3 linked regions of the Homo sapiens genome follow. The protein of the gene in region 3 purifies or fractionates together with the protein of the main gene of each other region. This does not show direct contact. Each region holds a gene or a part of one and is shown on either strand. Other genes may lie near its edges.

What was found.
Region 1: the proteins of CCT8L2 (region 3) and THUMPD3 purify together in Homo sapiens (affinity purification with mass spectrometry; one large-scale study listed by BioGRID and IntAct). This does not show direct contact.
Region 2: the proteins of CCT8L2 (region 3) and SIMC1 purify together in Homo sapiens (affinity purification with mass spectrometry; one large-scale study listed by BioGRID and IntAct). This does not show direct contact.

Annotation. Positions count from the first base shown.
Region 1 is NC_000003.12:9,376,439-9,380,090, reverse strand, and holds part of THUMPD3 (tRNA (guanine(6)-N(2))-methyltransferase THUMP3), read right to left. Parts: intron 2,273-3,652; coding exon 2,203-2,272; intron 1-2,202. UniProt on the Homo sapiens protein: Catalytic subunit of the THUMPD3-TRM112 methyltransferase complex, that specifically mediates the S-adenosyl-L-methionine-dependent N(2)-methylation of guanosine nucleotide at position 6 (m2G6) in tRNAs.
Region 2 is NC_000005.10:176,290,375-176,294,026, reverse strand, and holds part of SIMC1 (SUMO-interacting motif-containing protein 1), read right to left. Parts: coding exon 3,072-3,652; intron 1-3,071.
Region 3 is NC_000022.11:16,590,632-16,594,383, forward strand, and holds CCT8L2 (T-complex protein 1 subunit theta-like 2), read right to left. Parts: upstream 2,180-3,752; 5' UTR 1,920-2,179; coding exon 246-1,919; 3' UTR 120-245; downstream 1-119. UniProt on the Homo sapiens protein: Possible molecular chaperone; assists the folding of proteins upon ATP hydrolysis.

The sequences.
Region 1 (3,652 bases), on a different chromosome or scaffold from region 3:
AAATTCTAAGTTAATGCGGTTTGAAAATATTTGAGATTTGTGGTTGTGGGAGTTTACATAATCTGATATATTTGAAAATTGCAAAATAAAATGCTATTTCCGGCCGGGCATGGTGGCTCACACCTGAAATCCCAGCACTTTGGGAAGCTGAGGCAGGAGGATTTCTTGAGCCCAGGAGTTTGAGACCAGCCTGGGAACATGGTGAAAGCCCATCTCTACAAAAACACAAAAATCAGCTGGGTGTGATGGTGTGCACCTGAGTCTCAGCTACTCGAGAGGCTGAGGTGGGAGAATGGCTTAAGACAGGGAGGCAGAGGTTGCAGGGAGCTGAGATTACACCACTGCACTCCAGCCTGGCTGACAGAGCAAGACCCCAGGTCAAAAAAATAATAGTAAAATGCAATTTCCTTTGTATGATAGGCTTTTGAATGGTAACCACCATATCACTGGAAGGATTTTGTAATTATAAATAAAAAACCTGTCAGCAGAACATAAATACCAAGCTGTCACATGTCATTTGTGGAATGAGGTGACGTGACCCTAGGCCTGAACAATGTTCTATGCAGATTAACAGAAGGTTTCTGACACGAAAGCCGGGAAAGGTCTGCCTCTGCTTAGGGGTGAGTAGCAAACACCTTTGTGTTCCTTTGTGAACAGTAACATACTTCTCATCCATGAGTGCAGTGTTTCATAACTTTTTCTTTTGCCCAGACACTTGAGGGTGATAACATACCCTGTCTACAATCCTACGATGACATCAAACAAAAGGGAAGTTGAAGTATCCCAGAATTTTGGGTGGGTGGGGATGTAGAGGGGACCTAGAGTTTGAGGAAGGCTCTCAGTGATTCCGATTCCCAAATATTCTTTTTTTTTTTTCCTAAACCTATTTGGATTTTCAGCATTGGAAAGAATTGGGTTTTATAGCATAACACTTCTAAATTAAAAAAAAAAATTATTCTAGATCAAGTATTTTATACTTTGGTGAACAAATCTTTATATATACCTTGTCAATTTATTCATAATTTTATTCATTTTGATCATATATCGGCTTAGGTTTTTCTACATTGACATCTGCATGTCTACTCTTACATGGAAATGGCTCAAACTTCATGTTTTAATTTTTTTCGGCCTTTATTTTTACTCGGAGCTCTGTTGTGTATTTCTTGACATGCGGTGACCTTACCTGCTATTTCATACACATATCATGATTTCATACTAGAAAACAACACTCTGCTTTCTTCCCAGAATCCTTCTTGGCCACAAGAAGGACTGGGTTTTTACTGTGCAGTCTCTTTAAGCCACAGTAATTTCTCTAGCTTTCACGGAACACAGTCACATGTAGACTTCTATGATTTCAGTCTTGGATTTTAACTCCCAGAACAGATACCATTTTCTAATTACAGTTTGGATTATTTCTCCCCTTGTGGGCTTGCTTTGGACTTGCTCATCTGTCCAGTTTCTACCCAATCATATAATCTGCTGTGTCTCCCTGCAGTTTATTCAAATTGGCTGTCAGTATACTATATGGAAGAACTACTATGTTTCACACAAACTTCAGTGATTTTACTGGGAGCTCCCTCTTCTAAATTCTTTAAAAACATATAGATGATACTGATTATTCAAGGGGAATCTACTGTGAAATATTCTCCATTTAGAAAATGCCTTTCCATTTCTTGCTTTGCTTTACACAGTTTTTATGAGTCCTCTCAATATCATGGTAATTTTGAAAACTAAGAGCATTTGGTATTAAGCTTGTTAGACTTCCTAAAAAATCCAAGTAATGTTCATAAGTTTCCCCTTTTTACAACTATACTTATTCCCTCTAGGAACTTAAGTGGATTACAGAGAAGAAAATTGCCTTCCTCCAGTTTATGCTTATGCCTTCAATTATCTTTTCCCATTCAAGTCTACCAGCTTGTCTGTTACACAAAGAGGACTCATCGGCAGTTTGTAATTCTCAGCTTCCTCTGTAATCTAGTGAATAGATGTCACTAACAATGTATCTAGGCCAGTGGCACATGGCTCTTTGAAATAAGTAGTTACATTCTTTACAAAAAAGTTCCACTTTCTATTGTTAATTGTTTTAAAACTCTTGGGTCCACTGATCCAACCATGGAGATTTCATTATGTCTAATTTGCCCATTAGGTCTAGAATATTCTGGATGTATCACTCTTATCTAAAAGCTAAAGAAATATGATTACCTCTATTGGTATTGCCCCAGTTCCACACATTGGATCGACTATTATATCATAAGGTAGAGGATCACAGAGCCTAGAGAAAAGAAAACAGCCTATGTGAAGACTCACTCAAAAGCTGAGGCTTCTATACTGATGATTCCTGAAGCTTTAAGATTGAGGACCTACCACACTAGCCCGAAGGAACACCAATCTACACATATTTTAGAAATCAATTTGTGGCCGCGCACGGTGACTCACGCCTGTAATCCCAGCACTTTGGGAGGCTGAGATGGGTGGATCGCTTGAGGTCAGGAATTCAAGACCAGCCTGGCCAACATGGCGAAACCCCGTCTCCACTAAAAATACAAAAAATTAGCTGGGCGTGGTGGTGGGTGCCTGTAATCCCAGCTAGTACAAAGGCTGAGACTCGAGAATTGCTTGAACCCAGAAGGCGGGGATTGCAGTGAGCCAAGATCATGTAAGATGCAGCCTGGGTGACAGAGCAAGACTCCGTCTCAAAAATAAATAAATAAATAAATAAAATCAATTTATAATGATATGTTGACTGTATATTCCATTACTTGGGGAAAAAAAATCCTTATAACTAAATCTCCTTTGACTATCTTCCAAAATCCCATTTCACTCTCAGATGAAATTTAGTTTGCAGACATCTTAAAGTACACATGTGTACACACACACACACACACACGCTCATGCATACTTTTTGACAACAGTGTTGTTTTCAACAGAAACCTGTATTACATTAAAAAGACTCAAAAATGTCTCAAGTCAAACATGCATCAATATAAGGTTACTGGCAATGAGACATTCAGTATTCCTTTCCTTCTGAATTTAAAGCTAATCTTGATATAAAAAAATTGCTCTGTGGGACTAGGTAATAAAAAAAGGAAAAAAAAATGCTTTACTTTGAGCACTTAGTATTTCCTGGGCATGGACTTAAGCTCTTTCCATGCATTATCTCACAGAATCCTCAGTAAGGACCCTGTTAGATAATTATCATTATTCTCATTTTAAAGGTAAGCTGATGCAAGGAAACATGAAGTTACCTGCCCAGGGACACAAAACTAGTAGGTAACAGATTCAAGATTAGAGGCATTACTGTTAGTGGCTTAACTGTTATCCTCTTTATGAAGCATCCCACCCTGAAACAGGTCAGTAGGTTTCTTCCCTTCTCTTGTTCTTCTAATCTTTTCATGTGCTGGTGTGGGACTTATCGCATGTATGATAACTATTTATCTCCCTCACAAGACAGATTCTTGGGGGTTAATAGTGGGTTCTTATTGTAACATTGGTCCTGCTCTATCTCCTTGCTCCTACTCCTCAACACATGGCAATAGAATCCTTGGCAACCCTCTTGAGGGGGTAAGCACCCTGTACTCCAAGCCATTCCTGATGGTCAGGGGTGAATATCTGACCAAAACAATGTCCATCAGATCCTCTCTTCCAGGAATTT
Region 2 (3,652 bases), on a different chromosome or scaffold from region 3:
GAAGAATTCCATTTTTTTTTTGTGCGAACAGTAAATATTAAGTTGCTTCTTCCCCCAAAAAATATGTATATAAAGACTGCGAGAGAATATGTGAAAAGTGATTTTCTATTATGTGGGTGGTAGAATTAGTGGTGATTTTTTCTCTATGTGCTCTTCTATATTTTTCAATTTTTCCATAACACACTTATTACTTTTATAATTAGAATTAAACAATTTTAAAGTTTGATATGAGGGTTTAATAACAATAAATTTGGAGCTCTTAATTTTTTTTTTTTTTTTGAGATGAAGTCTGGCTCTGTCACCCAGGCTGGAACACAGTGGCATGATCATGGCTCACTGCAACCTCTGCCTCCCAGGCTCAAGCCATCCTCCCACCTCAGCCTCCCAAGTAGCTGGGACTACAGGTGTGTGCCACCATGCCTGGCTAATTTTTTTTAGTATTTTTAGTAGAGATGGGGTTTCACCATGTTGCCCAGGCTGGTCTCGAACTTGTGAACTCAAGTGATCAAGACTGTCTTGGCTTCCCAAAGTGCTGGGATTATAGGTGTGAGCCATCATGTCTGGCCTTAAACAATTAATTTTTTTTTTTTTTGAGATGGGGTCTCGCTGTGTCGCCCACGCTGGAGCACTGTGGCGTGATCCTGGCACACTGCAAGTTCCGCCTCCCGGGTTCATGCCATTCTCCTGCCTCAGCCTCCAGAGTAGCTAGGATATAGGTGTGTGCCACCATATTCAGCTAATTTTTGAATTTTTTATAGAGGGGGTTTCACTATGTTGCCCAGGCTGGTCTCAAACTCCTGGGCTCAAGCAATCCACCGACCACGGCCTCCCAAAATGCTGGGGTTACAGGCGTGAGCCACTGCGCCCAGCACTGAACACTTAATTGATCCTCAACTAGTTCTTACAATAATCTTAGGAAATACATACTATTATTATTCCTATCTCATAAATAAAGAAACAGATTTGGAGGGTAAGCATTTGTCATACAACAAATGGCAGAAGCTGGTTTCAAACACACGTGGCGTAAACTTCAGAGCCATTCTCTCAACCCCTACTCCCCATAAACAACAAAAATAATGTGTATATGTTAAAAATCCCAATTATTAAAATATGTAAAATGCCTATGTATAAAAAGGCAACTGGGAAGGAAAGACATCAAATTATTCACAATAATAAATGCTGTCTGGGCCGGGCGCGGTGGCTCACGCCTGTAATCCCAGAACTTTGGGAGGCCGAGGTGGGCGGATCACTTGAGGTCAGGAGTTCAAGACAAGCCTGGACAACATGGTGAAACCCTGTCTCTACTAAAAGTACAAAAAGCCGGAAGTGGTAGCGGGCACCTGTAACCCAGCTACGCGGGAGGCTGTGGCAGGAGAATCGCTTGAACCTGGGAGGCGGAGGTTGCAGTGAGTGAGCTGAGATCGTACCACTGTACTCCAGCCTGGGTGACAGGGTGAGACTCTGTCCCAAAAAAAAAAGAATGAGCTAGTGGTCAGGCAGAGGCATAAAGAAGGAGAAGACCTACAACATATTAGAAGATGTAATAATTTTAAAAAAGAGAAAAAAAATCATTCTCCAAGGTCAAATCAGTGTGAATCCTTGGCTCCTGCCTACCTGGATCACTGCTTGAATGAGGAGAGCATACCTTTTGACACTGAACTGTTTCAAGCTGGTTTTCTTAATATGGGGGATGGGATGTACATAACTAAAAAACACTTCATACGGTGGAACTTAGCCAGTTATTTTCCCTAACACATCTAGTTTACTTCTCATAAATCAATGATGACCAATGGAAAGGAGCATTCCCACTCATGTCTTAATATTGAATTTCCTCCCCCAAAGTCAGCAAGTAATAATTTTGGAGGCCCATAAGTGATAGAGTATTATTATCTCTGTGATATAGAAGCTGTAATAAGGGCACCAGGAAGGGAAAAGCATAGGAGTTGAAGATAAACATTTATTTATTTTTTTGAGACAGAGTCTTGCTCTGTGGCCAAGGCTGGAGTGCAGTGGTGCAGTCTCAGCTCACTGCAACCTCCGCCTCCCAGATTCAGGTGATTCTCCTGCCTCAGCCTCCTGAGTAGCTGGGATTACAGGTGCATGCCACCACATCCAGCTAGAAGATAAGAATTTACATAAGGCCTACGATGAGCCTGACACCCTGACACTTTCACGTATGACCCTGTGAGGTATGTTATTACTTCCATTTTACAGATAGGAAAGCTAAGGCTTAAAAAGGTAAAGTGCCCTGCTGGGCGCGGTGGCTCATGCCTGTAATCCCAGCACTTTGGGAGGCTGAGGCGGGTGGATTACAAGATCAGGAGATCAAGACCATCCTGGCTAACACAATGAAACCCTGTCTCTACTAAAATACAAAAAATTAGCCGGGCGTGCCAGGCGCGGTGGCTCACGCCTGTAATCCTAGCACTTTGGGAGGCCGAGGCGGGTGGATCACGAGGTCAGGAGATCGAGGCCATTCTGGCTAACACTGTGAAACCCCGTCTCTACTAAAAATACAAAAAATCAGCTGGGCGTGGTAGCGGGCGCCTATAGTCCCAGCTACTCGGGAGGCTGAGGCAAGCGAATGACGTGAACCCGGGAGGCGGAGCTTGCAGTGAGCGGAGATCGTGCCACTGCACTCCAGCCTGGGCGACAGAGCGAGACTCCATCTCAAAAAAAAAAAAAAAAAAAAAAAATTAGCCGGGCATGGCGGCATGCGCCTGTAGTCCCAGCTGCTAGGGAGGCTGAGGTAGAAGAAACTCTTGAACCTGGGAGGCGGAGGTTGCAGTGAGCCAAGATTGTGCCACTGCACTCTAGCCTGGGAGACAGAGCAAGACTCGGTCTCAAAAAAAAAAAAAAAAAAAAAAGTAAAGTGACAGTTTTTAAGCGTGGGGCTAAAATTTGAACCCAGATCTGGGCCTCTACACTGAATGGGTCTTCACAAGTGGAGGAAAGATAAGAAATTTCATTTATGCTTGACCTGTCCTCTCACGCATGGACTCCAGTCACACTGACCTTCTCCTAGGCCTAGGGAAAGGACACCTAATCCCTGAGGGAAGATGTTAGCTCACCTCTCTTGTGTCTTTATCCGGTATTAGCGTCTGAAAGAAGAGGTGATGAACCGGAGGACGTAAGAAGTACTTCAGTCTATGCAGGCATGGTCTGTTGTACAACCCACCTTGTGGTGTTCGTGATTGTACGTGGGCAGACCCAGGTTTGGCAGGCTCTGACAGTGATATTTCTTTTCTGGCTGGGGTTTCCATGACAGAGAGCCAAGGAACTTTCTCTAAGGGAGTTTCAGACTGTGGGCTGGGAGAGCAGCTTGGAGAGGACAGAGCTGAGATATCCATAGGCATGTCACGGTTCTGTACATCATTCTGGGTAAAGTCAGGCCTGTCTCCTGGTAAGTGAGGGATGTCTCTAGGTGAGTGTGTCACGTCCCCTGATGAGTGTGGCATGTCTCCAGGTGAATGTAACACATCTCCCGGTAAGTGTGGCATGCCCCCTGGTGACTGTGGTGCATCTGGTGACGGTGAAACATCACTTGGTGACTGTGGCACATCTCCTGGTGACCGTGGCATGTCTTGCAGGTATGCCACATCTTGTGGATGTAATATGCTTTGAGGCAGCCCTGGCACATCTTGAGGTAGGC
Region 3 (3,752 bases):
AGTGAGCCAAGATCACGCCACTGCACACCAGCCTGGGCAACAGAGCAAGACTCCGTCTCTCAAAAAAAAAAAACAAAAAAAGTCGAGAACTGGAAAGGAACTAAGCGCATGAAAAGAAATTTTATGTTCCTTCATGTTTTTATTTAAAGAAAGTGAATCAAGTACCAAACACGGAATAAAGGCAAACATTCATTTTTGGGGTGATTGTTCCCTTCTTGGCAATCCCTGTTTTATTGAGGGTATCACTAGTTATTCAATCCAAGGATTTTTTTTGTTTCCACAGGAGGTGGGTGTTTCTTTGTCTTCTTAGAGTCAGGATTCCAGATCTCCTGATGTGTGGGACTTTTCTTGGCCACTACGATTTCATCTACAGTCACGAGCTGTAGCACCACCTCAGCCACTGCTCGAAATCCTTGGGCTTTGACTATTAGGGTGTCCCACACCCCTTCCTGGGCCACATTTATTATCCCTTCAGTTCCCACACCCATTAGGAGGTTCCCACCTTGGTGCACTCCACTCATTTCTGCCATCACGTCTGAGACAGCTAAGCCTGCATTCTCTGCCAAAGTTTTAGGAAGATACTTCAGGGCCCAGGCAAATGCTAGGAATGCAGGCCCACTGGGCCCTTCCAATCTGCTTCCTTTATCAGAAAGCATTTTTGCCAAAGCCATTTCTGTGGCCCCAGCTCCTGGAATCAGTCTGGGATCTTGACATAGCTGGAAATAGGCATCAATGCCGTGGTAGACGGCCTGCTCTGCACTCCGCAGCCCCTGGGTGGTGGCTCCCCTGAGAACCACAGTGAGGGCAGGTGTGCCTGTACATTCCCATTCAAATACCACAGCCAAACCATCTCCCAGCTCCTGCCTGTAAACCCTCTGGCACTTGCCTGGCCTCTGGGGAGGGAGCAGACGAGGCAGCAGAGGTGTGTCCAACACCTCACTCAGGTAAATGATCTCCATCCAAGACCTAGCTTGAATCACCACGATGCCATACTTGTCCGCCAGTGTGAGGGTCTCCTCGTCGACCTCCCCCAACACCACTGCCACATTAATTCCTGCAGCTGCTAGCTGGCCTACTTGCTTTTCTAGTAATTGATCGCTTCCTTTACTAAATTGAGCTAGATCAGCAGGACTAGAAAGACGGGCCGTTGCTGGTGCATTTGGATGGGCAGGACCAAAGGGGCAAGCAAAGAGAGCCACCCTGGCACCACTTAACACTGTGGCCATTTGCCCACAGAGCTTCCCAGATATTGCTAACCCCGGGAGGAGGCAGGAATCCTCCAGTGTCCCCCCGGGCAGCGCGCACACCCCAACACGCTCAGGCTTGAAGCTGCCGTCTAGTTCCTTGATAGCCCAGCAGGCGTGGGCCACCAGCTTGGTCAAGTGGTCCATGGGGGACAGGGTGTGGGTATTCATCACAGAATGGAGGGCCCAGGATGGATCTTCCAAAGGCCCCAGAGATTGGATGGCCAGGGAGGGCAGTGTGGCCAGGACCTCTGCAGTGGCCGTGGCGTAGGCCTCCCGGAGCTGCGGGCGAGGCAGGCCAGCCTTCAGCAGCTGCTCTGCCTGTTCCAGCAAGGCTTCCGTCAGCAGAACCACGAAGGCTGTGCCGTCCCCACTATTCTCTGCCTGGGTTTGTCCTGCTTCCCGGAGGAGCCATGCTGCTGGGTGCTCCAGCTCCAGGGCCCTGAGGATGGCAGTGGCACACCCCGTGCACACTGTTTCTCCTTTCATGGTCACCAGGAACTTCTGCCGGCCGTGGGGGCCATAGCAAGGCCGGATGACACTGGCCAGGGTCTGGACTGCAGCCAAGCTGCTCAGCAGGTGGGGCTCCTCCTCTTCTGGACTCCTCGGGCTCTCCCTTGGGTTCAGTGCCAGCCGCTGGGGCAGCTCCAGGGCTGAAGGGACTGTGCTGTCCATGGCCCGCAGAGAGAGGAGAGGCCACCGTGGGTTGCAGAGATGCTCTAGAAACAGCAGCTGGGGCACTCCTGACACCGATCGTTGAAAGTACTCAAGAGGTCAGTGGAAGCAAGGAGCCAAATGCCCATTGATTGGTATCTGAAGACATCAGCACGGACCAGCACTCCACTGTGGGTCCAAGGATGAGCTCCAAAGAGCCCAGTCCTAAAGCCACCCCAGGGTTGATTCTGTAAAGGAACTGGGTCTTGGGGCCTCTCAACCTTGGTGGCTGAAATGGGATCTTTAACTGATGAAGTCACAAAGTGGAAAATGGAACCAGGATAGAGAATGAGGTCACAGAAGGCTGGTTAGAACTGAGGAGGCCCTACCAGCAGGCAAAAGTCAGGCCTTGTCCAGCAATGGAGGTACATGCACCTCTGCACCAGGTTTGAGACTTGTTTAAACGTAAGAGACAATGAGGAGGAGATCAAGTGAAAAACTACCCATTTCACCCTATCTGGAGTGCAGGGGCATAACCATGGTTCACTGCAGGCCCAGCTCCCTGGTCTCAAGCAGTCCTCCTGCTCAGGTTCCCAAGTACCTGGGACTACAGGCACACACCACCACACCTAGCTAGTTTTTTTATTTTTTGTAGAGACAGTGTTTCTGTCTGTTGTCCAGGCAGGTCTCGAATTCCTAGCCTCAAGAGAGCCTTCCACCTTGGCCTCCCAAAGTGCTAGGACTACAGGTGTGAGCCACCACCTCACCCACCCTTTTTTTTTTTTTTTTTTTGAGACAGAGTCACACTCTGTTGCCCAGGCTGGAGTGCAGTGGTACAATCTTAGCTCACTGCAACCTCCACCTCCCAGGTTCAAGCAGTTCTCCTGCCTCAGCCTCTCAGTAGCTGGGATTACAGGTGCCAGCCACCACGCCCGGCTAATTTTTTATATTTTTAGTAGAGATAGGGGGATTTCACCATGTTGGCCATGGTTGGCCAGGTTAGTCTCAAACTCCTGGCCTCAAGTGATCCGCCCACCTCGGCCTCCAAAAGTGCTGGGATTACAGGTGTGAGCCACTGCACCTGGCCTTTTTTTTTTATTTGAGAAGGAACTGAGAGATGATGTCTGTGTTTTGTTTTGTTTTGGTGTTACTTTCTCTTGCAGTACTGTGTAATATTAGCCATGTTTTGCTGTCTGCCTTTGACTTTTTGGGTATCTTATCAGTTTGTGCTTGTGTATCAGGTTTCTTAGGGTGTCTGTTGGTCTTTCAGGGTGCAGGTGTGGGAGGCTGCACAGCGTGCATGCCTGTGCCACGACTCCCAACTCTGCCTCCCTGGCAGAGGCAGGGCAAGACAAGTGGGGAAGGATGCTGACAGCTCACAGACAAATAGAAGTGAACCCAGAGGGGTGAAAAGCAACCAGCCTCCCAGCGGTCAGGGAGGTAGAAGCCTAAATGGGGTCCTGAGATTTAAATGCGAATCGCCTTCCCATCCTAACCTTCAATGCTTACAATTTAAGTCTCTTTTTTTCATTCTCTCTCCTTTCCTCACTTGTCTCCTCTTTCCTCCTATAGAGCCTACTCGGGTAATGATGCTTCTGCTTTAGTTTAACACATATTTAGTCTGGGCGTGGTGGCTCATGCATGTAATCCCTGCACGTTGGGAGGCTGAGGCGGGAGGATTGCTTAAGCTCAGGAGGTTGAGGCTTCAGTGAGCCATGATTGCACCACTGCATTCCAGCTAGGGCAACAGAGTGAGACTTGTCTCAAAAAAAATAGGGGAAAGGTCATTTGGAATCCTAGTCCAGAGATAACCATTGTTTACAACTTGATGAACATTACTACTTTGCACATATT